Regions from separate parts of the Homo sapiens genome. Here region 1 is linked to region 2. The links come from fine-mapping of genetic effects on gene expression. A gene starts in region 2. The other region holds a variant in brackets. All regions are shown on one strand. Distances are between the middles of the regions. Region 1 overlaps GYS1 (glycogen synthase 1). Region 2 holds the start of SAXO3 (stabilizer of axonemal microtubules 3).

What was found. PIP is the estimated chance that this variant, and not a neighbour inherited with it, causes the effect.
Region 1: its variant is fine-mapped to the expression of SAXO3 in whole blood (TOPMed, PIP above 0.99).

The regions. Positions count from the first base shown.
Region 1 is chr19:48,978,849-48,986,848 of GRCh38, forward strand. It overlaps GYS1 (glycogen synthase 1), which reads right to left. Exons shown (of 16, transcript NM_002103.5): 4 at 7,002-7,187; 5 at 6,613-6,757; 6 at 3,872-3,989; 7 at 3,407-3,527; 8 at 2,682-2,788. Among named protein-coding and RNA genes, the nearest start is that of GYS1, 10 kb to the right of the region's middle. RefSeq lists an enhancer at 114-353. The variant C/CCCAG (reference allele first, on the strand shown) is at 4,877.
Region 2 is chr19:49,012,114-49,027,756 of GRCh38, forward strand. It overlaps SAXO3 (stabilizer of axonemal microtubules 3), which reads right to left and starts at 8,436. Exons shown (of 5, transcript NM_001396011.1): 1 at 8,262-8,436; 2 at 7,796-7,996; 3 at 7,534-7,695; 4 at 6,760-6,887; 5 at 5,855-6,227. The coding sequence starts at 8,402. The coding sequence ends at 5,855. LHB (luteinizing hormone subunit beta) reads right to left here and starts at 4,978. Exons shown (of 3, transcript NM_000894.3): 1 at 4,954-4,978; 2 at 4,434-4,601; 3 at 3,867-4,197. The coding sequence starts at 4,968. The coding sequence ends at 3,955. CGB3 (chorionic gonadotropin subunit beta 3) reads right to left here and starts at 12,220. Exons shown (of 3, transcript NM_000737.5): 1 at 11,844-12,220; 2 at 11,323-11,490; 3 at 10,756-11,087. The coding sequence starts at 11,858. The coding sequence ends at 10,773. LOC124904738 (a long non-coding RNA gene) reads left to right here and starts at 7,980. Exons shown (of 2, transcript XR_007067288.1): 1 at 7,980-8,561; 2 at 8,784-10,702. It also overlaps RUVBL2 and the pseudogene NTF6A. RefSeq lists enhancers at 5,699-5,993, 5,803-6,726, 9,013-9,162 and a silencer at 5,970-6,159.

The DNA.
Region 1 (8,000 bases), 37 kb before region 2:
AGGATAGCAAGGAAACTGAGGTGTGAGCAGGGAAGCCGTGCCCTGGGGCCTCCAGGCTGGAGGATGGGGACCCAGGGGGCAGGCCCTGGAAGGCTTAGGACCCACGTGCCTGACATCAGCTGTGTGGTCAGGGACAGGTGGCCTTCCCTCTCTGACTGCAGTGACTCATTTTTCAGAGGAGGATGAAAATAGAATCAACCTCAGAGGTTTGCGATGAGGACCCAATGATGTCATGCCAAAAAGTACACATGGCAAGCCTTCCAGAAATGTCAGCTATTATTAGGACTTGTACTTGTCCTGCAGATGGCAATGCTAAGCCCCATTTTATACGAAAAGAAAGTAAGATTCTGAGAAAGGACCACTTAGGCACACAAGTAAAGCTAGCAGTGTCACACAACAGCCCCACGGTCACTCCTCCACTTAAAATCCTCCCATAGCTCTGGCCTCATTTATTTTTCTTTCTTTGTCTCTTTTTCTTTTTTCTTTTCTTTTTTTTTTTTTTTTTTTTTTTTTTTTTTTTTTTTTTTTTGAGACAGAGTCTTGCTCTGTCGCCCAGGATGGCGCAATCTCGGCCACTTTCTAGGTTCAAGAAATTCTCCTGCCTCAGCCTCCTGAGTAGCTGCAATTACAAGCGTGCGCCACCACATCTGGCTAATTTTTATATTTTTAGTACCGATGGGATTTCACCACGTTGACCAGGCTGATCTCGAACTCCTGACCTCAAGTGATCTGCCCTCCTCAGCCTCCCAAAGTGCTGGGATTACAGGTGTGAGCCACCGCGCCCAGCCTCTTTCTTTCTTTTTTTTTTTTTTTTTTTTGAGACCGAGTCTCACTGTCACCCATGCTGGAGTGCATTGGCGCGATCTTGGCTCACTGCAATCTCTGCCTCCCGGGTTCGAGCGATTCTCCTGCTTAGCCTCTCGAGTAGCTAGGACTACAGATGTGTGTCACCACGCCCTGCTGATTTTTTTTATTTTTAGGAAAGACGGGGTTTCACCATGTTGGTCAAGCTGGTCTCAAACTCCCGACCTCAGGTGATCCACCCGCCTCGGCCTCCCAAAGTGCCGGGATTACAGGTGTGAGCCACCACGCCCGACTTCTTTTTTATTTTTTTGAGACAGAGTCTCACTCTGTTGCCTAGGCTGGAGTGCAGTGGCGCAATCATGCCTCACTACAGCCTCAACCTCCAGGGCCAAAATGATCCTCCTGCCTCCTGTAGCTGGCACTACAGGTGCCCTCCATCTTGCCTCACTTTCTACCCCTTCTCTATGAGACATGTCACTCCAGCCCCATGGGACTCCCCACCGCGTCTCAATCATGCCTCGGGGCCTTCGAGTTTGCTGTTCCTCAGATACCCACAGGGCTTGCTCCCTCGTCACCTTTCCTCGTCTCTGCCCAATAACACTTTCTCAGTGTGGCCTGTCCTGACAACCCCGTCTCATATTCCAGTTCTGCTTTATTTTTGCCCAAAAGTAAATTCCGTCTACAGGATTTTCTAGAATACAAGCTCCATGAGGAAAGGGATCTTATCTTTCTGGTTCACAGCTGTATTCCCAGGACCTGGAATACATGAGGAGGGCAGGTCACTTGAGGTCAGGAGTTCAAGACCAGCCTGGTCAACGTGGTGAAATCCCATCGGTGCTAAAAATATAAAAATTAGCTAGCACATAGTAGATGCTCAGTGAGTATCTCTGCTAATGAATGAACGGTTTTACAGATGAAGAAACTGAGCTTTGCTGGGAGGCGGAGGTTACAGTGAGCTGAGATTACGCCACTGCACTCCAGCCTGGGCAACAGTGAGACTCTGTTTCAAAAAAAAAAAAAAATCAGAGAAAAGAAAAAGAAACTAAGCCAGGCGCAGTGGCTCACCCCTGTAATCCCAGCACTTTGGGATGCCAAGGCGGCTGGATCACCTGAGGTCAGGTGTTCAAGATCAGCCTGGCCAACATGGTGAAACCCCATCTCTACTAAAAATACAAAAAAAGGCTAGGTGTGGTGGCTCACGCCTGGAATCCCAGCACTTTGGGAGGCTGAGGCAGGCGGAACACCTGAGGTCAGGAGTTCAAGACCAGCCTGGCCAATATAGTGAAAACCTGTCTCTAATAAAAATAAAAAGTTAGCCAGGTGTGGTGGCACACCCCTGTAGTCCCAGCTACTCAGAGGCTGAGGCAGGAAAATCGCTTGAACCCAGGAGGCAGAGGTTGCAGTGAGCCGAGATCATGCCATTGCACTCCAGCTTGGGCGACAGAGCAAAACTCCATCTCAAAATAAAAAAAAAAAAGAGGGCCGGGTGCGGTGGCTCATGCCTGTAATTCCAGCACTTTGGGAGGCTGAGGCGGGCAGATCACGAGATCAGGAGTTTGAGACTAGTCTGGCCAATGTGGTGAAACCCCATCTCTACTGAAAATACAAAAATTAGCCAGGCATGGTGGTGTGCACCTGTAGTCCCAGCTACTCGAGAGGCTGAGGCAGATGACTTGCTTGAACCCAGGAGGTGGAGGTTGCAGTGAGCCAAGATCGCACCACTACACTCCAGCCTGGGCGACAGAGTGAGACTGTCTCAAAAACAAACAAACAAACAAACAAACAAAACAAAAAACTGAGACTCTAGGAGAAACACAGGACCCAAAGCATGCATCTGGGAGTGGGCTGCGCCAGGGGCCGGAGCGAGGGCTGCTAACCAAAGCTGTTTGCGCACAGCTTGGCCTTTGAGGGTTTCCACGTTGAAATTGTTGGTCCGCGCTGGCATGATGAAGAAGGCAACCACTGTCTGCTCGCTGCCGTTCACCTGCGCAGAAAGAAAGGAGGGGGAGGCCAGGATCATGTGGGGGAAGCCTGGAACCAGCCAGCCTTTCTGTCAAGACCACTGGGATCCTGCCATACCCATTCCTGTCAAGGAGAATTATAGGACAGTCCCCACCTGGACTCTGACCTTCTTTCTGGGTCTCTATACTCCCCTCACGGCCCCCCACCATACTCAGGGGCTTTCCTACCCCCATCTTCCTGGCTTCTTGGGTTTCTGTTCTGTAATTTTTTGTTTTGTTTTGTTTTGTTTTGTTTTTGAGACAGCGTCTTTTTCTGTCGCCCAGGCTGGAGTGCAGTGATATGATCTTGGCTCACTGCAACCTCCACCTCCCGGGCTCGCGTGATCCTCCCCGTTCACCCTCCCGAGTAGCTGGGACTACACGTGTGAGCCACCATGCCTGGCTAATTTTTGTATTTTTTGTAGAGATGGGGTTTCACCATGTTGCCCAGGCTGGTCTCCATCTCCTGGGCTCAAGTGATCCTCCCGCCTTGGCCTCCAAAAGTGTTGGGATTACAGGTGTGAGCCACTGTGCCTGGCTGTTCTCCCTAGTTATAAACTGCTTTGCTTGCCCTCCCTGTCCCCTCATAGCCCAGGCCTCACTCTGAGCAGATAGTTGAGCCGAGCCAATGCCTCCAGGAAGACGTCAGCACCCTTGTTGGAGAACTCATAGCGGCCGGCGATAAAGAAGTATAAGGTCTTGTCCAAGTTGAAGTCCAGATGCCTAAAGAACCCACAAGGCACGGTAAAGCCCAAAGCCCTCACCCGCTAGCCCTGGCCTCAAAACTACAAATCCCAGAAGCTATGGGTGGGGGGGCAGAGGATGTCTTAGGTAATACAGAGGCATCACGGGGCCTCCTGGGAGTTGTAGTTCTTCTCTTTAGATGGAGATTTCCTTTAATCCTGAGCCCATTGTTCCAGCGCTCAAGAATTAAGGAGGCCGAATACCCAGGTGCCCCCTCCCTCAGACCCAGGAGTCTGGGCCCCCAGCTGCCCCCTCCCCCAGACCTAGATGGTTAGGCTCCCAACGCCCTCCTCTCTTAAGACCTAGGTATATGCCCCACGTACCCATAAAAATGGCCCCGCACAAACTCCTGGATTCGAGCCTTGCTCTGAGCATGGAGGTTCTGGAACTCATGCATGGCAGAAAACTTCTTCACATTCAGCCCATTGGGGGTCACAATATCTGGGATTGGGGGTGAGGGTCCCATGTTTTATTTGTTCATTCAGATCAATGTTGTGGTTGAATGAATAAATGAAGAAAACACCCTTTGCCTTTTGCAATTTTTTTGTTTCAAGAGCGTTCCTATGAGGTCCCCCCTCCCACCTTTTTTGTTTGTTTGTTTGTTTTTGGAGACAGGGTTTCTCTCTGTCGCTCAGGCTGGAGAGCAGTGGCACAATCACAGCTCATTGCATCCCTGACCTCCTGGGCTCAAGCAATCCTCCCTCCTCAGCCTCCCGAGTAGCTGGCACTACAGGCGTGCACTACCACACCCGGCTAATTTATTTATTTTACTTTTGTAGTGATGGGGTCTTGTCATGTTACCCAAGCTGATCTCAAACTCCTGGCTTCAAGCAGTCTTCCTGCCCTGGCCTCCTAAAGTGCTGGGATTACAGGTGTGAGCCACCATGCCTGGCCAGTTCCCTTGGTGACACACCTACCCTGACTCCAAGATGCCTTCTTGCCTAATATTACTTGCTTAGGTTCACAAGCACAAGTATAAGTCTCCTCAGCTACTGCAAATGGCTAACAGGGATCTGATCCACACTGGTGATTCTGGGAAAGTTGTACTTCTTTTGTTTCCTCTTAGCCCACCCTGAGATGGAAATGATTAAACATCCCCAAAGTCCTGCTTCTCCTAGGATATATCCTCTACTTCCAAGCTTCTTACAGGGACCCAATCATTTCTTCTCCTCATAGAAATTAAAGTATATCAACGAAAAACTACAACCCCCATCAGCGCCTAGGGCAAAGTTCTGGAACATATAGAGCTAACCAGTCAAAGGCCTTCTGGGAGTTGTAGTTCTCACCTTATACTCACTGAGAACGGATACTAAGGGCTGGGAAGAATG[C/CCCAG]CCAGTTCTGACCTAACCTTTCTCAAAAGCAAAGTCCACTGATCTTCCATTCCCTTTCATAAGACCAATCTACATTAGCCAATTACAGAATTTTATCATATCTGAAATTAATATGAAAGAAATTATACCTCCCATTAGCCTCCAGAGTATATAGTCAGAGAGCCTCAAATACAGGTCACCACCCCCACAGCCTTCTGGGAGCTGTAGTTCTCTATTCTTTAGGTAAAAAAATGGTAACTGATGGTCCCCAGCTTAGGACTTAGGATGGTCCAAGTTATGATTTTTCTTTTCGAGACAGAGTTTCGCTCTTGTTGCCCAGGCTGGAGTGCAATGGCACAATCTTGGCTCACGACAACCTCTGCCTCCTGGGTTCAAGAGATTCTCCTGCCTCAGCCTCCCGAGTAGCTGGGTGGCTGGGATTACAGGCGCCTGCCACCATGCCCACCTAATTTTTGTATTTTTGGCAGAGAGGGGGTCTCACAATGTTGGCCAGGCTGGTCTTGAGCACATGACCTCAGGTGATCTGCCCACCTCAGCCTTCCAAAGTGCTGGGATTACAGGTGTAAGCCACCGTGCCCAGCCAAGTTATGATTTTTCAACCTTATGATGGTGTGAAAGTTACATACATCCACATGAGTCCAATTTTGGATTTTGATGAGATATTCAACACTTTTTTTTTTTAATTTTTTGAGATGGAGTCTCGCTCTGTTGTCCAGGCTGGAGTGCAGTGGTGTGATCTCGGCCCACTGCAACCTCCGCCTCCTGGGTTCAAGTGATTCTCCTGCCTCAGCCTCCCGAGTAGCTGGGATTACAGGCACCCACCACCACGCCCGGCTAATTTTTGTATTTTTAGTAGAGATGGAGTTTCGCCATGTTGGCCAGGCTGGTCTCGATCTCCTGACCTCGTGATCTGCCCGCCTTGGCCTCCCAAAGTGTTGGGATTACAGGTGTGAGCCACTGCGCCCAGCCTATTCAACACTTTATTATAAAATAGGTTTGTATTAAAATTAGCCAGGCGTGGTGGCAGGCGCGTATAGTCCCAGCTACTTGGGAGGCTGAGGCAGGAGAATGGCATGAACCTGGGAGGCGGAGCTTACAGTGAGCCAAGATAGCGCCACTGCACTCCAGCCTGGGCGACAGAGCGAGACTCCGTCTCAAAAATAAATAAATAAATAAAAATAAAATAAAACAGATTTGTATTGGATGATTTTGCCCAGTCGTAGGCTAACATAAAGTGTTCTGGGCACATTTAAGGTATACTAGCCTAAGCTATGATGTTCAGTAGGTTAGGTGTATTAAATGCATTTTTTTATTTTTTGAGACAGGGTCTCACTGTGTCACCCAGGCTGTGACAGGGTCTCTCCAGGCCACCCAAATCATGCAATGGCACGATCACAGCTCACTGCACCCTTGACCTCCTAGGCTCGAGCAATCCTCCCACCTCAGCCTCCTGAGTAGCTAGGGATACAGGCACACACCATGTCTGGCGAATATTTTAGACAGGGATTCGCCATGTTGCCCAGGCTGGTCTCAAATTCCCGGGCTCAAGTGGTTCTCCTGCCTTGGCCTCTCAAAGTGCTGAGATTACAGGTGTGAGCCACCATGCCCAGCCGAAATACGTTTTCGGTTTATGCTATTTCAACTTACAGTGGGCTTCTTGGGCTGAGGAGCAACTGGCTTTGGCATAGACAGCTGCCTACCTCATTCACGTCTGGGGACTTCAGCCCAGCCCCTACCTGGTTTCCTCTTGAGCAAGTGCTGTGCCTCGATGGCGGTGATCTGGGACACAGTAGTGAAGACGTGAGCGCAGTGGGCTGCCGCCCTTTCCATGCAGTATCGGTGGTAGATCTGCCTCTCCCCTGCTTCCTTGTCCACGTTGAACTGGGTGGGAGGGGACAGCAGTCCGGTTAGAAGGATTGGGGAGAAGACTCTGGAGGTCCAGACACTGGGGTCCCAAGAGAAATTGGTGCTGGGGGCTGGATTCCTGGGTCTGAGGTAGGAGGGGTCTGGGGACTTGGACTCCTGGATCCTGGGAGAAGAGGGGGTGCCATCCCCTTGGGCCCCCCAGAGCTTTGGGTTTTCCTGGCATACTCGCAGTCCCCCATCTGCCACGGTCCCAGCTCACGTTCTCCAGGTTGTTGTAGAAGTCCACGGCACCGGCACACAGGTAGCGCCCCAGCAGCGTGGCATGGGTGGTGAAGATGGTTGCTACAGGCAGTCGCCGGGCACGACACAGGCAGAGTCCAACGCCTGCCAACCACTCATGGAAGTGAGCAACCACATGTGGCTTCTCCTCACTCTGTGCCAGGAACTGTGGGCAACAGGGACAGGGCCACTGTCTCCACGAGTGTTGGGAAAAGAATCGGCAATCCCCAGTAGGGACAAGGACTCGGGGAGAGGTCAATCTGTCACCACTACTGCACAGAGTGGGCAGCGGCCCACTGCAGCAATCCCAACCGGACAGGGACCTGTAAATCCCTGAGGCAGCCCAGGCTGGTCTTGAACTCCTGGGCTCAAGTGACTGCCTCCTCAGGGGTTGACAGGAACTGAGGATTTTTTGGCCAACCATCTAAGTCCTGGCAGGGTTAGATTGGACAGACTGAAGTTTTCATGTTCCCAGGTCCTGGACATAGTTTCCAAAGACCCCTTGTCTCAAGGGTACGCTGTCTGCACCCAACATTGGCAAAGGGACTACAACTCCCAGAATGCCATAGGAGCAGCCAGTTCCTCAATTATTTGTCCCAGGGCATGAGAAATTAAGCTTCTTTTTTTTTTTTTCTTTTTCTTTTTTTTTTTGAGACAGTGTCTCACTCTGTGGCCCAGGCTGGAGTGCCGTGATGCAATCTCAGCTCACTGCAATTCCCGCCTCCCAGGTTCAAGCAATTCTCCTGTCTCAGCCTCCCAAGTAGCTGGGATTTGGGATTACAGGTGCCCACCACCACACCCAGCTAATTTTTTTGTATGTTTAGTAAAGACGAGGTTTGGCCATCTTGAACTCCTGGCCTCACGTGATCTTCCCCCATCGGCCTCCCAAAGTGCTGGGATTACAGGCATGAGCCACCGTGCCCAGCCTGGAAACTAAGCTTCTTGAGCCTCTTAAAACCTAGAAGGGGGTCAAAACCAG
Region 2 (15,643 bases):
TTGGGCTCAGTGCTGTACCTGGTGGCAAAGAAGGCTGGGTACTGTCAGCTCCAGCCCTGCAGCCTTGGGCCCAGCTGAAACTGGGCGGTTGGGATGGGCATCACAAAAGGGAAGAAGCGGGCACCCTACAGAGGATGCTGGGCCGCTGGGCCTGGCTCTGTGTTTGGCTCTTTTAACTCCTTGGATCCGCAGAAGAAGCTCAGAAGGTAGATATCACCTCAGCCCCATTTTATAGGGCAGGACAGTGAGGCCCAGTGACTTGCCCAGGTCACAAGTCTAGAAGGTAGCAGGGCCGTAATTTGGTCTCTGGATGGCTGGACACTGGAAGAGACCCCCAGGGCTGATGGTGTTTTCACAGAAACTGCAGGTCAGGGCCTGGGGACTGCCCAGGGGCACCTCCTGTGGGAGGCAGCAGCTACGGGCAGCCCTGATTGTTCGTAGACTCTGTATCTGAGAATCTCGCTTGCTAAGATTTATTTGTAATCCCCAAATAAATATCTGCCCTGCTTTCGGCAACAAATTCAAGTCACCTGACACCCACTTTCCCAGCTGAGTGTGAACGAGGCAACACTGCCTGCTCCCTTAGCGCTCATGCTGTAAATAAGTGTCCTTGTTGTATTCTATTTAGTGCTACGTTTGTCACTTTTGTTCTTTGAGACAGGGTCTTGCTCTGTCGCCCAGGCTGGAGTGCAGAGGCACGATCATGGCACACTGCAGCCTCAGTGCCCACCACACACACACACACACACACACACACACACACACACACACCACCCCTGGGACTCAATCAGTCCTCTGGCCTCAGCCTCCTCATCAGCTGGGACCACGGGCATGCACCACTATGCCTAGCTAATTTCTGTTTTTGTTTTGAGACGGAGTCTAGCTCTGTCACCAGGCTGGAGTGCAGTGGCACGATCTCGGCTCACTGCAACCTCTGCCTTCTGGGTTCAAGCAGTTTTCCTGCCTCAGCCTCCTGAGTAGCTGGGATTATGGGCACCCGCCACCATGCCCAGCTAATTTTGGTATTTTTAGTAGAGACAGGGTTTCACCATATTGGCCAGGCTGGTCTCGAACTCCTGACCTCGTGATCTGCCCACCTCAGCCTCCCAAAGTGTTGAGATTACAGGGGTGAGTCACCGCGTCCGGCCTAATTTTTTTTTTTTTTTTGTAGAGATGGTGTTTTGCCATGTTGCCCAGGCTGGTCTCAAACTCCTGGGCTCAAGCAATCCACCCGCCTCAGCCTCCCAAAGTGTTGTCACTTTTTTTGTGCCTTTTTTTTTTAAACTTTTTGGGGCCATTTGTTGGTGATATTGCCATTTAAAGTGTCCCCTGTGCACAGTGTTGAAGTGCTGTCTAGTATCCTAAGTGCAAGGAGGCTGTGAAGCCTGACGGAGAAAATGCCATGTTACAGACGCTTCGCTGAGCCCAAGTTAGAATGCTGTTGACACGAGCTCCATGTTAGAGAATAAACAGTGATGTTACATAACAAACACATGGAAATAGAAACACACATACATGAGGCCAGGCGCGGTAGCTCACACCTGTAATCCCAGCACTTTGGGAGGCCGAGGTGGGTGGATCACGAGGTCAAGAGAATGAGACCGTCCCGGCCAACATGGTGAAACCCTGTCTGTATTAAAAATAGAAAAAACTAGCTGGGCGTGATGGCGTGCGCCTGTAGACCCAGCTACTTGGGAGGCTGAGGCAGGAGGATCGGTTGAACCCGGGAGGCGGAGGTTGCAGTGAGCCGAGATCGCGCCACTGCACTCCAGCCTCGCAACAGAGCGAGACTCCGTCTCAAAAAACAAACCAAAAAGACCAGAAACACACAAATGAAAATACGCATAGACCCAGATTATATATATATGGATTGATGAAAATACTGTAAGCCGAGGCTCGAGAGAGCCTAACCCTGTATTCCAGTAGGAGCAGTGGCTCAGGATCAGCTAATTGGAGTGTTCACGATGACTTTCTAGAACCTCACTACTGTGAATAAGGGGAACTGACTGTATCCCCTGGCACCAGCCCTGGGCTGGCCCCGCTGCAGCAGGGAACAAGACAGGTGCAGTCCCCTCCTTTGTGAAGCTTTGTGTCGAGCACGGGAGTGGGACCTTGATCCAGTAATCCTGGAGGCAGAGATCTAGCTTAAAGCAGCCCAGCTCCGCGGAAAGGTGCCCTTGGGGGACTGACGCAGCTGTGGAAGGCTGCGTCATCAGGGGTGATGTCATCATGTGACAGGAGACGCGAGCTAAAGGTTAAGTGGTGTTGGGCCCAGTGAGTGGGTGGCGATGGGAGGTGAGAGTGTTCCCAGCAAAGGGAATGAAGAGGGAACATGCCCCTGACAGCCCCCTCTTTCTGCCTCTTCCTCAGAATCCGGGGCACCAGCTACCAGAGCCCTCACGGCATCCCCATAGACCTGCTGGACCGGCTGCTTATCGTCTCCACCACCCCCTACAGCGAGAAAGACACGAAGCAGATCCTCCGCATCCGGTGCGGGCAGGACCAGGCCGTGCGCCTGAGACGCAGGGCTGGGGTCTACCCTGTTTGACAAATGCTGACACTGAGGTCCAGCGGAGTGGCATGGTGGCTGGGCCTACAGGAGAGAGGGCTGAGCGGGCACCCAGACGGTGGCCTCCGATCCGGGAGCAGGAGCCACGGTGGGAAAGGGAGGCGAGGTACCCGTGACTGGTGTTGGGGCCAGCGCCCTGGGGGTGGTCAGGAGGCCTCGGTTTTAGGTCCAGCCCAGCCCCTGTCTCCGTGGCTCTTCTAGCCTCAGCATTCTATGGTTCTAAGATGCAGGCGCCACATATTCCCAGTGGGGAAGGGCCAGAGGGTTGCTGTGGCCACTTCTGCTGCAGTCAGAGGCTGGGCCCCGGCTGAGCCACCCCTGTCCCCCACTGCTTGCAGGTGCGAGGAAGAAGATGTGGAGATGAGTGAGGACGCCTACACGGTGCTGACCCGCATCGGGCTGGAGACGTCACTGCGCTACGCCATCCAGCTCATCACAGCTGCCAGCTTGGTGTGCCGGAAACGCAAGGTCAGCCGGCCGAATTAGCCAGCAGGGCCAGATGGCGGCAGTGAGTGACACAGTACTTCAGGGGCTTCCAGGGTTCCGATTTCATCCTAGAATGTACGTTTTCAGACGCAGGGAATTTTCATCCCTCAGGTTGGCTTCTGTATCATCCAGCCTGGCCTATAGTAGGTATCAGTAAATCTCTCTTGACTTAAGTAGATGCTGTTAGGTCCACCTTACAGATAAAGAAACTGAGGAATGAAGAGGCTGGGCCCACAACAAGGAGATGGCCAGGCAGGATTTGAACCCAGGCAATCTGGCCCAGAATGCCCTCCCCTCACATGCCACACTCTGCTGCCTAGAGCATGGAGGTGGCATACGCTGGGGTCTGTGCCTTGAGCCTCACGGAGAGGGGCCCAACTGAGGACTCGCCCTCCCCCTCCAGGGTACAGAAGTGCAGGTGGATGACATCAAGCGGGTCTACTCACTCTTCCTGGACGAGTCCCGCTCCACGCAGTACATGAAGGAGTACCAGGACGCCTTCCTCTTCAACGAACTCAGTAAGAATCCCCACCCCGCACCTGCACTGCCAGAGCCAACCTCAGAGGGAGGAAGAGGGAGCTCGGCGTAGAAGGCTCAGGCCCTGCCACCTGGGCGACACTGACCATGTGGCCTTCCTTCTCCCCACAGAAGGCGAGACCATGGACACCTCCTGAGTTGGATGTCATCCCCCGACCCCACCCTGTTTTCCACCAGAGTTCTGACACTGTGACTCTGTATAAAATGGTTGGGAAGCTGCACCCACCCTGTGTATGTGTGGTTGCCCTGAGCCCACAGAAAGACACCTCCAGAGTGCGGATTGAGAAGCCTTTATTGTGGGAGGATCGGGGTGTCAGGGCTCCAGGAGTCGGGATGGACTTGGAAGGCTGCGGGGAGGGTCTTTAGAGGAAGAGGAGGCCTGAGAGTTGGGGGTGGTCACAGGTCAAGGGGTGGTCTTTGGGACCCCCACAGTCAGAGGTGCTGCGGCGGCAGGGTCCACAGCGACAGCTGAGAGCCACAGGGAAGGAGACCACGGGGTCCACACCACGCGGGCAGCCAGGGAGCCGGATGGACTCGAAGCGCACATCACGGTAGGTGCACACCACCTGAGGCAGGGGCGGCAGGACCGCCTGCAGCACGCGCATCTGGAGGCCGTGTGAGTGGGGGAATGAGCATGTGCCTGAGGCCAGCGCCTCAGCTGAGCTCCCAAGCTGACCCCACAGGTCCTGGACTCAGGAGCCCAGGAAGCCCTCTGTTCCTGCCTTCCCACACCCCATTCCCCAACCGCAGGCCAGAGAGGCAGACCACCCTTCCTCCCCCGCTGCCTCTGTGGGTCTGGCCCTGAGGTGGCAGCATCTGCCCCTGGCCCCAGGCAGCTCACCATGGTGGGGCAGTAGCCGGCACAGATGGTGGTGTTGACGGTGATGCACACTGGGCAGCCCTCCTTCTCGACAGCCAGGATGGCATTGATGGGGTGGCACCATGGCCGAAGCGGCTCCCTGGATGCCCATGCCCCGCCCATGCTCAGCAGCAGCAACAGCAGCAGCCCCTGGGACAAGGACACTGCTTCACCCAGGTCTGAGACCGCAGCCCCGAGTCCTGGCCTTCCCATCCCGCGTGGTACACCACCCACAAAGACCCAGAGACCCTTCCCGGCATCTCCTATTCAGGACCCACCACCCGGACACCTGCCTTTCAGAGCCCACCCCACAGCCCAGAGGACCTGAGATGCCCCAACATTTCAGATCCCCACCCTCAGGAACTGCCCCACCTGAAGCTTACTGGGGGTCATGCCCCTCCAGAAAGAGGCCTCCTTCCACAGCTCACACGGGTCTGCCCCTTCTCATGCCAGTGATGGCCTGGAAGGAGGTGGAAGGTGCCCAGGGGCCCTGTAGTCTTACCTGGAGCATCTCCATCCTTGGTGCATCCCCTGCCTCGTGTATCTGGCTATATACCTCGGGGTTGTGGGGGCGGCAAGGCCACCAGGAGGTGATAGGATGCTGGGGTAACCTGGACACTAATCCCCCCGGGGGCGAGAGGTGCACATGGCCAGGGAGGCGCAGGAGTGGCTCAGCAGAGCGCCCCAGCCCTCTCCCCTCAGTGGTCTAGCGCCAGAGGTGAGGCAGAGACCACGGTGAAGTGACCTCAGAGACCCAGTTGTCGAGTGCTAGGGACTAGTCGAGCCTGGAGGCACAGGGAGTAGGGTGTAGGAAGGCCTGCCTCTGCCAATTGTGGGGTCTTGGGAGCCAGGAGGAGGCCATGACCCGAGAAAGGTGCTGGACTGAAGCCTCAACCCTCCACTTGAGGCTTTCCTGCACCACAGTCCAACCTAACAGGAGGGGCGCTGCTTCGGACTTAGCTTCTGCCCAGTGAGAGAGGGTCTCCCCGTGACTGTGCTGCCAGGGAAGCCACTTGACCCAGATGCCCCCAAGGAGGGATTAAGCCCGAGCCCCACCTCTCCCTTAGGGACCTCCGCCCACCCTACCCTCAAGCCAGGATGCCCGGAGCGTCCCCGGAAGTGGGTGTGGTTCAGGTGATTTAACTCATTATTTAATACGCCCGCAGGGTGCGTGTCTTGCCCCCGGGGCCACAGCCTGCAAGGACATTATCTGGACTTAGTCCCCTCTCCGTGATGCCGCAGCTGAGTGGGTGTCTGGGCTAGTCCCGCCCCCACGTTGCCAATAGACGTAATGAGTGCGACTCAGGCTGGGTCCGGAACCCTTCCTAGTGAGCGGAGGTCCCGAGCTCCGCTCGGCAGCGCGGCCCTGGGGGCGGGTCTGGGGTGGGGCTGGCCCTGACGGCTCACACCAGCGCCGGCTTCAAGCTGCCATAGCTGGAGTTCTCGGTACTGTAGGCTTTCGGCACGCTGTAGATGCCCCGCAGGGGCTTCCAGTGCGGGCCGCCCCAGGGCGCCTCCAGCGGGCAGAAGCGGTCGAGCCGCCGGAGCGGGTGCAGCAGGGGGCTGTAGGACTCCTGAGCCAGAGACAGGGCTCCCCGGTGCGGCATGGCCGAGGTCACCGGGCTGACGCGCGGCACGCGGACCCGCGGTGGTCGGGGCGGCCGGGAGGAGCGCGGACAGGGCGGCCGCTGCGGGCCGTGGCTCCAGACCTGGGGCGTCTCTTCGAAGCTCCAGTAGGTCAGGGAGTCCTTGCGGGGGTATCCGGACAGCTCCGTCCTGTGGGAGCAGGGCGGGATGGTGAGGATACAGCTGGATCCTTGGGGACGAGTTTCAGACCTCGGGATCTAAGGAGTCTGCACATTCAAACTCCTGCATTTCCAGGCGAGCACCCCTTAGGAAGGACGCGACCCGGCACGCGTTGCCTGCGTTCCTGGGTCCTCGAGGTACTTAACGTCCTGGAAACTGAGCTTTCGCATCCTAGGGAAGTAAAAGGGGACTTTCGCTTCCTTGGGAAGGAGTATCTGGGGGCTCAAGTACCGAAGGAGGCCCTGCCCTCAGATCCGGAATCCCCTCGAGCCGCTGTGCAGGCTTCCTGTCCCTACCGCGGTTCCTGAGAGGTGACACTAAGGACTCCTGGGTGCTTAAAAAAAAAAGGGAGGGGCTGAGGCCTGAACTTTGGTTCTTGCTGCTACAGAAGTCGAGGCTGAGACCACCGGCTCAGGGAATGGGAGCCAGCCCAGGGGCTCGGCGTGCACCGGCCACGGCGGGGGCTGTGCAGGAGGCGGTGCCGAGCGAGAGCCCGGCTTACTTGGGATAGAACCGAAAGTCCCGCGCCGAGGTGGTCAGATAGAGCTGGCGGCGGTCCAGGACGCCCCGGTCGGATACTGTGAAAGGCCGGCCAGACAGCTCGGGGTTCTTCGTCCAGGCAATTAGAGCCTGAGCAAGATTGGGGGAGGAGGCATACCCAAGACATAGATTTCATACCCCATCCCAAGCCCTGGGTCCCGAGTTCAGAATCCCTCTCCTTCGGCCTCGACAGCCATGACGGCCACGGCCCTCACACCCCGCCCCAGGGTTAGAGCCCTTCCTGCCACCCACGCCAGGGAACTTCAGCTTCCTTTCTCATACCCGAACCCTTCCCAGCCTCACCTCCCTAAATCCAAGCACCTTCTGCTGTTCAAGGAACTCAAACCCAAGCCCCCAGCCACCAAAAACAACCTCCCTGGTTCCGCTCTGTCTTAAACCGTCTTGGTGTGGCCACTGGAGCTGAGCTGCATCTTGGGCAGCAACTCCAAGTTACCTCTCCCAACTCCCACCTGACCCCGTCTCAGAATATTCTAGTCTCCTCCCCACCCACAGCCCGCCGTCTAGCTCCGCAGCAGCTTAGGAGCCCTGAAGGTGAGTTTGTAGTCCCTGGTCCTTCTGGCCTGGCCTAATGCCCAGCCCCTCCCCCGGCTCCTCTAACCTCGCGATCCCGCCCCAGACCCTTTAGCCACGCCCCAAAGCCGTGATTCCTTCTGGCCCCGCCCCAGGCTCCCGGAGCTCCGCCCCGTCTCGCCGGCGCCGGCTTCCACCCAGACACCTGGGAAGGACCCCCGCGGTGGTGGTCTGCGAGTTGTGGGGGCTGGGGCCCGAAGTATTCCGGGGCGCGCGGGTCCCCGCTGGGAGAGCCAGTGTACTGCGCCCTCGTCTCGCTGCTCTGGTACTTTGTGGTCAGTGGGAGGCGCCAGCCGCGGTGTCTGAGCTGCGGAAAGGCGACCCAGAGACTCACGTGAAGGAGCAGGGGACTCAAATGCAGTCCCCCGCCCTGTCCCCTGCGGACTCCGGCACTCCCCAAACTTTACCTTTTCTCCTAAATCCTTGATCCCCACAGTCCGCGTGGGGTCTGCAGGCTCTGGGGCTCTGGGCTGGGCGCAGGGCCCGCCATGGGTCTTGGGCACGTAGGCCGAGCCAGAGGTTGTCTCCCATCTGCTGAGGACCTCGTCGAAAGCCCAGTTGTGAGAATCCTGCTTTGCAACTTGGGGTAGAGGGTCCGCGACCGTGGACTGGAGAGAAGGCGCCGCACATCAGCTAGAAAGACTCAGGAGTCCCTATCACCCCCCACCCCAAACTCTGACCTCTTCCAGTCGGCCCCCAGCCCTTTCCTCTGCAGTCCCTGGCATTCAGCTTCCCTGGTGCCTCCTCTCTCAGACCCAGAACTCCAGGACCCTCCTCCTTCAGAGAGGAGTCCAAGCTCCCAATCCGCTTTATTTAGCCCCTATCTTTCTGGGTCTCCAGGCCCGGCAGGGCTGCAGCGTAGGGTCCGCTCACCTGCACCGTGGGCGGGGTGAAGGGTATGGGTGGGATAATGCGGTGGGAAAAGTAGCTGCTGGTGAGATGGCAGTTGGGCCTGGATCCAGGTACCTCGGTTGCAGAGATACGACAGCCCGGAGCCAGGGTGCCACTGGCCATGGTTCCACCCCCACTCCGTAGCCAAGCAGGAGCTGGCTTATTGTGGTTGTTGCCCCAGGTGACAGAACCCGCCCACCCAGAACCTAGTCAATCAAGGGCCTGCAGGCACCTGGATGGATGGAATGAGAAAGAGACCCAGAGACAGGGACCCCAAGAGGGGTACAAAGAAACACAAGGAGGGGGAATGGAGACTCAAAGATAGGAGGGTGGAAAGGGAAGGAGAAGTTCAGTATTTCAGAGACCCAGGGGGTGGGGGAGAGAGAAACCCAAAAAGAGGGACAGGGACCTGGAGGTGTCAGAGATCCAGACAGAGAGACAGAGACCCCTGCGCTGCACCTAGCAACTCAGGACATCCATGAGAAACACCCCCCTTTCTTCCAGGGCCCAGATGCTCCTGGCTGCTTCCTCCCTCTACCAGGCCTGCCCACCTCAGGGTAACGATTTCCAGACATCCCCGGGGCTCCCCGACCCTCCCTGCATGCACGTGCTGAAGTAATCAGCACTAGCATTGGCTGTCCTGCCTGCCTTTGATTGGCTTGAAAAGTTCCACCTGGGTAGGCGGGGTGTGGAAACAGGGAGGCACCCACAGAGAAGTGCACCGGACCATAGCGAAAAACATGGGCTTTGATGAGTGAGAAAGAAATACAAGAGAGGAGAGAGACAGGGAGGAAGACACAGACCACGCTGGAAACGGAGCTATTAGTACTCACCCAGAGGCTAGAGCCACCGGAAGTTAGAGACAGAGAGAAAGGCGGCAAAAAAGAGCAAAATCAGAGATGGTAACAAGGAGATGTAGAAACGGAGGCAGCCACACCCCTCCCTGCCGAGGGGCCTGGTCTGTACAGATTGGTGGAGGGGGTGCCTATGTCCTTTGCTCAAAGCTGGACCTGAGAGAGAGAGAGGGGGAGAGAAAGTGAGAGAGAGAGAGTGTGTGTGTGTGTCTGTGTCTGTGTGTTGGCAACACATGTGGGGAGATGGGTAATAGGTAAAGGGCTATTGTGAAGTCCTGTGGTCTGTCCCAGACAGAGAGAAAGAGAGAGAGAGAGAGAGAGACAGAGTGTGTGTGTGTGTGTGTGTCTGTCTGTGTGTTGGCAACACATGTGGGGAGATGGGTAATAGGTGAAGGGCTATTGTGAAGTCCTGTGGACCAGAGAGAGAGAGAGAGAGTGAGTGTGTGTGTGTCTGTATGTCTGTGTGTTGGCAACACATGTAGGGAGATGGGTAATAGGGGTCATAGGTGAAGGGCTACTGTGAACTCCTGTGGTCTGTCCCTGGCTTCCCTTGTCATTTCTTCACCATATAGAGCTTTTGGTCACCGGGCACGATGACTCACTCCTGTAATCCCAGCACTTTGAGAGGCAGAGGCGGGCAGATAACTTGAGGTTAGGAGTTTGAAACCAGCCTGGCCAACATGGCAAAACCCTGTCTCTATCGAAAAATATAAAAAGTAGCCAGGCATGGTGGCGCACACCTGTAATCCCAACTAAGGCAGGAGAATCACTTGAACTCAGGAGGTGAAGGTGGCAGTGAGCTGAGATCATGCCACTGCACTCCAGCCTAGGGGACAGAGCAAGACTCCATCTCAAAAAAAAAAAAAAAAATAGCTTTTGGTCTAGGCCTCTGCCTCCTCAACCCTCATTATCTCATCCCACGAGCCCATTCTTCAGACAAGGAAACCTGAGGCTGCCTTCTGCAGCCAGGCCCACAATCCCACTTACTGTTCCTCCCTGAATCATGCTTCTGGGGCCCTTCTGTTGGATTTTGCTGACCCTACTCAAGGGCTCTCAATGACGAATAACCCCCTGATCCTAGCCAGGGGGACGGCGAGTTAGTCAGAACCTCATGTCCCACTCAAACTGGACAATTTTTTTTTTTTTTTGAGACGGACTTTCCCTCTTTTTGCCCAGGCTGGAGTGCAATGGCACAGTCTCCGCTCACTGCAACCTCCGCCTCCCGGGTTCAAGCGATTCTCCTGCCTCACCCTCCAGAGTAGCTGGGATTACAGGCACCCGCCTACACGCCCAGCTAATTTCTTTATGTAATTTTAGTAGAGACGGGGTTTCACCATGTTAACCAGGCTGGTCTTGAACTCCTAACCTCAGGTGATTCGCCTGTCTTGGCCTCTCAAAGTGCTGGGATTACAGGCATCAGCCATCGCACCTGGCCATCAAGCTGGAAAATTTTAAGGTCTGTTTCTTTCCCAATGTAGAGTAAAGTTGCGATGTCATCCCCCGACCCCACACTGTTTTCTACCAGAGTTCTCATACTGTGACTCTGTATAAAATGGTTTGGAAGCTGGACCCATCCTGTGTGTGTGTGGTTGCCCTGAGCCCACAGAAAGACACCTCCAGAGTGCGGATTGAGAAGCCTTTATTGTGGGAGGATCGGGGTGTCCGAGGGCCCCGGGAGTCGGGATGGGCTTGGAAGGCTGGGGGGAGGGGCCTTTGAGGAAGAGGAGTCCTGGAAGCGGGGGTCATCACAGGTCAAGGGGTGGTCCTTGGGACCCCCGCAGTCAGTGGTGCTGCGGCGGCAGAGTGCACATTGACAGCTGAGAGCCACGGCGTAGGAGACCACGGGGTTCACGCCGCGCGGGCAGCCAGGGAGCCGGATGGACTCGAAGCGCACATCGCGGTAGTTGCACACCACCTGAGGCAGGGCCGGCAGGACCCCCTGCAGCACGCGGGTCTGGAAGCCGTGTGAGTGGGGGAATGAGCATGTGCCTGGGGCCAGCGCCTCAGCTGAGCTCCCCAGCTGCCCCCACAGGTCTCAGACTCAGGGGTCCAGGAAGCCCTCTGTTCCTGCCCTCCCACACCCCATTCCGCAGCCCCTGACCAGAGAGGCAGACCACCCTTCCTCCCCCGCTGCCTCTGTGGGTCTGGCCCTGAGGTGGCAGCACCTGCCCCGGCCCCGGGCAGCTCACCATGGTGGGGCAGTAGCCGGCACAGATGGTGGTGTTGACGGTGATGCACACGGGGCAGCCCTCCTTCTCCACAGCCAGGGTGGCATTGATGGGGCGGCACCGTGGCCGAAGCGGCTCCTTGGATGCCCATGTCCCGCCCATGCTCAGCAGCAGCAACAGCAGCAGCCCCTGGGACAAGGACACTGCTTCACCCGGGTCTGAGACCGCAGCCCCGAGTCCTGGCCTTCCCATCCCGCGTGGTACACCACCCACAAAGACCCAGAGACCCTTCCCGGCATCTCCTATTCAGGACCCACCACCCGGACACCTGCCTTTCAGAGCCCACCCCACAGCCCAGAGGACCTGAGATACCCCAACATTTCAGATCCGCACCTTCAGGAAATGCCCCACCTGAAGCTTACTGGGGGTCACGCTCCTCCAGAAAGAGGCCTCCTTCCACAGCTCACACTGGTCTGACCCCTTCTCATGCCAGTGATTGCCTGGAAGGAGGTGGAAGGTGCCCAGGGGCCCTGCAGTCTTACCTGGAACATCTCCATCCTTGGTGCGTCCCCTGCCTCGTGTACCTGGCTTTATACCTCGGGGTTGTGGGGGCGGCAAGGCCACCAGGAGGTGATAGGATGCTGGGGTGAGCTCGACACTAACCCCTCGGGGGGCAAGAGGTAGACAAGGCCAGGGGGGCGCAGGAGTGGCTCAGCGGAGCGCCCCAGCCCTCTCCTCTCACTGGTCCAGCGCCAAGGGTGAGGCGGAGACCACGGTGAAGTGACCTCAGAGACTCAGTCGTCGAGTGCTAGGGACTAGTCGAGGCTGGAGGCACAGGGAGTAGGGTGTAGGAAGGCCTGCCTCTGCCTATGGTGGGGTCCTGGGAGCCAGGAGGAGGCCGTGACCCGAGAAAGGTGCTGGACTGAAGCCTCAACCCTCCTCTACTTGAGGCTTTCCTGCACCACAGTCCAACCTCCCAGGAGGGGCGCGGCTTCGGACTTAGTTTCTGCCCAATGAGAGAGGGCCTCCCCGTGACTGTGCTGCCAGGGAAGCCACTTGACCCTGGTGCCGCCAACGAGGGATTCAGCCCGAGCCCCACCTCTCCCTTAGGGACCTCCGCCCACCCTACCCTCAAGCCAGGATGCCCGGAGCTGTCCCCGGAAATGCGTGTGCTTCAGGTGATTTAACTGATTATTGAATAGGCCCGCAGGAGGTGTGTCCTGCCCATGGGGCCGAAGCCTCGGAGGACATTATCTGGACTTAGTCCCTTCCCCGCGATGCCATCAAGCTGGACAATTTTAAGGTCTGTTTCTTTCCCAATGTAGGGTATAGGTTGGCACAGGGAAGAGGGCTAGAAACCTGACTTGAGCTCCCCGCCCAGGGCTGAACTCTCCAGCATCCTGATCACTTCTCATTGAACCTTGCTTATACTCCCCGTGTGATCGGTAGCTCTTTATCTCAAAACAGAATATTCTAAGCCAACCCCTGCCTGCTCTCACCAAGTAAGATTTCTCATTTGAACCCCAGCTCCCAGATACTTAAAGGCCTTCTGTAGACCATGTCCTCAAGGTCCCCTGGCCATCTGCTTGCATGTTCCAGTTTCCCTCCTCCCCCATGCACATCGTGAAATGTGCCCTCCCACTCCCCAGGATGAGCAAGGTGGTGTCCTCTGTGACTGAGCAGTCAGCAACTTAACACCAAAGGTCACCAATGATCAAATCCATGAGAGTTGATCCGAGGAGTTATGTATTAGGGCTACGAAAGAGTAAACACTCAGTAAATAGTGGCTATTATTATTATCATCATCATCATCATCATCATGATTACCCTCAAGTTCCCCTGGGAGAGCTCCTATTCAACCTTCAAAACCACATGTGGTGGCACCCATCCTGCAGAGATTGAGCTCAAATTCAGAGAGTTGTGATTTTGTGATGATTTGATGAGTTCCCCAACTGGGGTCCGTCCGTAGAGCAGCTGGGCCAACCCTGAGGTCTCTCAGCATCCAGCTCTGTTCTTTTTCTGCCTGACCAGTTCCTGGGTATAAGTCTCAGGCCCGGCCAGTCCGGCTGAGGAGTGTGCAGACACAGGCTGTGCCAGTTTGAATCCATCGCCAGTCCACACGGCCCTGGGCATCAGCGGTCAATGCCCGCACATAGGACTGCTTGGCCTTGCACTCAGACACCCAGTGCCCCCCGGTCCACACCCCGGCGGCAGCCCCCTCCACCTACCCCCGGGCCACCTTCCTCAGATTTATCGGCCTCGAAGTGGGCAACAAAGAAGTGCTGGCGGAGGGAACTGCCGACAGCTGCAGGCACCTCGCCCAACACCTCCACCTCGAGCACACCCAAGTCCACAGCAGTCCAGGGGTCTGTCACCCAGACACTGACTGCATCGCACACGGCCAGCTCACCCTGATGACTCGCCGGTGAAGTATCGCTCACCCCTCGCTGGCTGCGGTTGGCCCGGGCGCCTGCTGACTCCCGAAAGGCTCCAGTCTCCAGCAGGAAGACCAGAGGGGGCCCGGCAGCGGCACCCCTAGACAGGACCACTCGGGGGAAAAGAAGGTCCCACTCTGGAGGAGGAAAAGGCGACAATGTCGAGGATGGGGTTAGGACTCCATTGACACACTGGGGAGGAGGAAAATGAGGGGGATGCGGAGGGAGCCTGGGGGAGTGGGAGCATCTCTCAGAGCATCTCTCAGAGCACATGGAGACAGGGAAAAGGAGGCTGGGATTAGAGAAGAGGATAAACACTTCAGTGGGGTCAGAAGTTGGAAACCCCAGGGGAGGCCTGCCTGCCAGGATTATGGGGAAGCCCTTGCTCTAGAAGTTTGGGGGACTCCATATATAGGACTTGCATCACACCCAACTTGTAGATTAATAATAAATATTCAACAACTACAGGTCAGGCACTATGGCTCACACCTGTAATCCCAGCACTTTGGGAGGCTGAGGCGGGTGGATGACTTGAGGTCAGGAGTTCGAGAGCAGCCTGGCCAACACTGTGAAACAACATCTCTACTGATAATACCAAAATTAGCCAGGCCTGGTGCTGCACGCCTGTGGTCTCAGCTACTCAGGAGGCTGAGGCAGGAGAATCGCTTGAACCCGGGAGGCCGAGATTGCAGTGAGCCAAGATGGTGCCACTGCACTTCCGCCTGGACAACAGAGTGAGACTCTGTCTCACAAAAAAAATAAAAATAAAAATAAGGCCGGGCATGGTGGCTCACACTTGTAATGCCAGCATTGTCGGAGGCTGCAGTGGGTGGATCAGCTGAGGTGAGGAGTTCCAGACCAGCCTGACCAACATAGAGAAACCGCACCTCTACTAAAAATACAAAATATCCTCCAGCGTGGTGCTGCATGCTTATAATCCCAGCTACTTGGGAGGCTAAGGCAGGAGAATCACTTGATCCCAGGAGGCAGAGGTTGCAGTGAGCCAAGATCGCGCCATTGCACTTCAGCTTGGGCAACAAAAACAAAGCTCCATCTTAAAAAAATAATAATAATAATCATAAAATAAAGATAAAAATGTTCGGCCGGGTGCAGTGGTTCACGCCTGCAATCCCAGCGCTTTGGGAGGCCGAGGTGGGTGCATCACCTGAGGTCAAGACTTTGAGACCAGCCTGGCCAACATGGTGAATCCCTGTCTCTACTAAAAAAAAAACACAAAAATTAGCTGGGTATGGTGGTGCGCACCTGTACTCCCAGCTACTCAGGAGGCTGAGGCAGGAGAATCGCTTGGACCCATGAAGCAGAGGTGTAGTGAGCCGAGAGCGCGCCACTGCACTCCAGCCTAGGTGACAGGGCCAGACTCCGTCTCAAAAAAAATAAAAATAAAAATAAAATAAAAATAAAAGTAGAAAATATTCAACTACTATTACTCAATAGCAACAGATGGTAAAATACAGGCTCAGAGAAATTAATGATTTGTGCCTGGTCACACAGCCAACAAATGGCAGAGATGGGACTTCACCTCTGGGCAACTGCACTCTGCTATCCTTCCTGTAGAACTCTGAGGAACCGAGGGTCTTGCACCCTGGAGGATGTTCCAATCAATTTTTTTTTGAGGGGGTGTCTCACTTGTCGCCCAGGCTGGACTGCAGTGGCGCGATCTCGGCTAACTGCAGGTCCACCTCCCGGGTTTACACCACTCTCCTGCCTCAGCCTCCCGAGTAGCTGGGACTACAGGCACCCACCACTATGCCTGGCTAATTTGTTGTATTTTTTAGTAGAGACGGGGTTTCCCCGTGTTAGCCAGGATGGTCTTGATCTCCTGACCTTGTGATCTGCCTGCCTCGGCCTCCCAAAGTGCTGGGATTACAGGCATGAGCCACTGCACC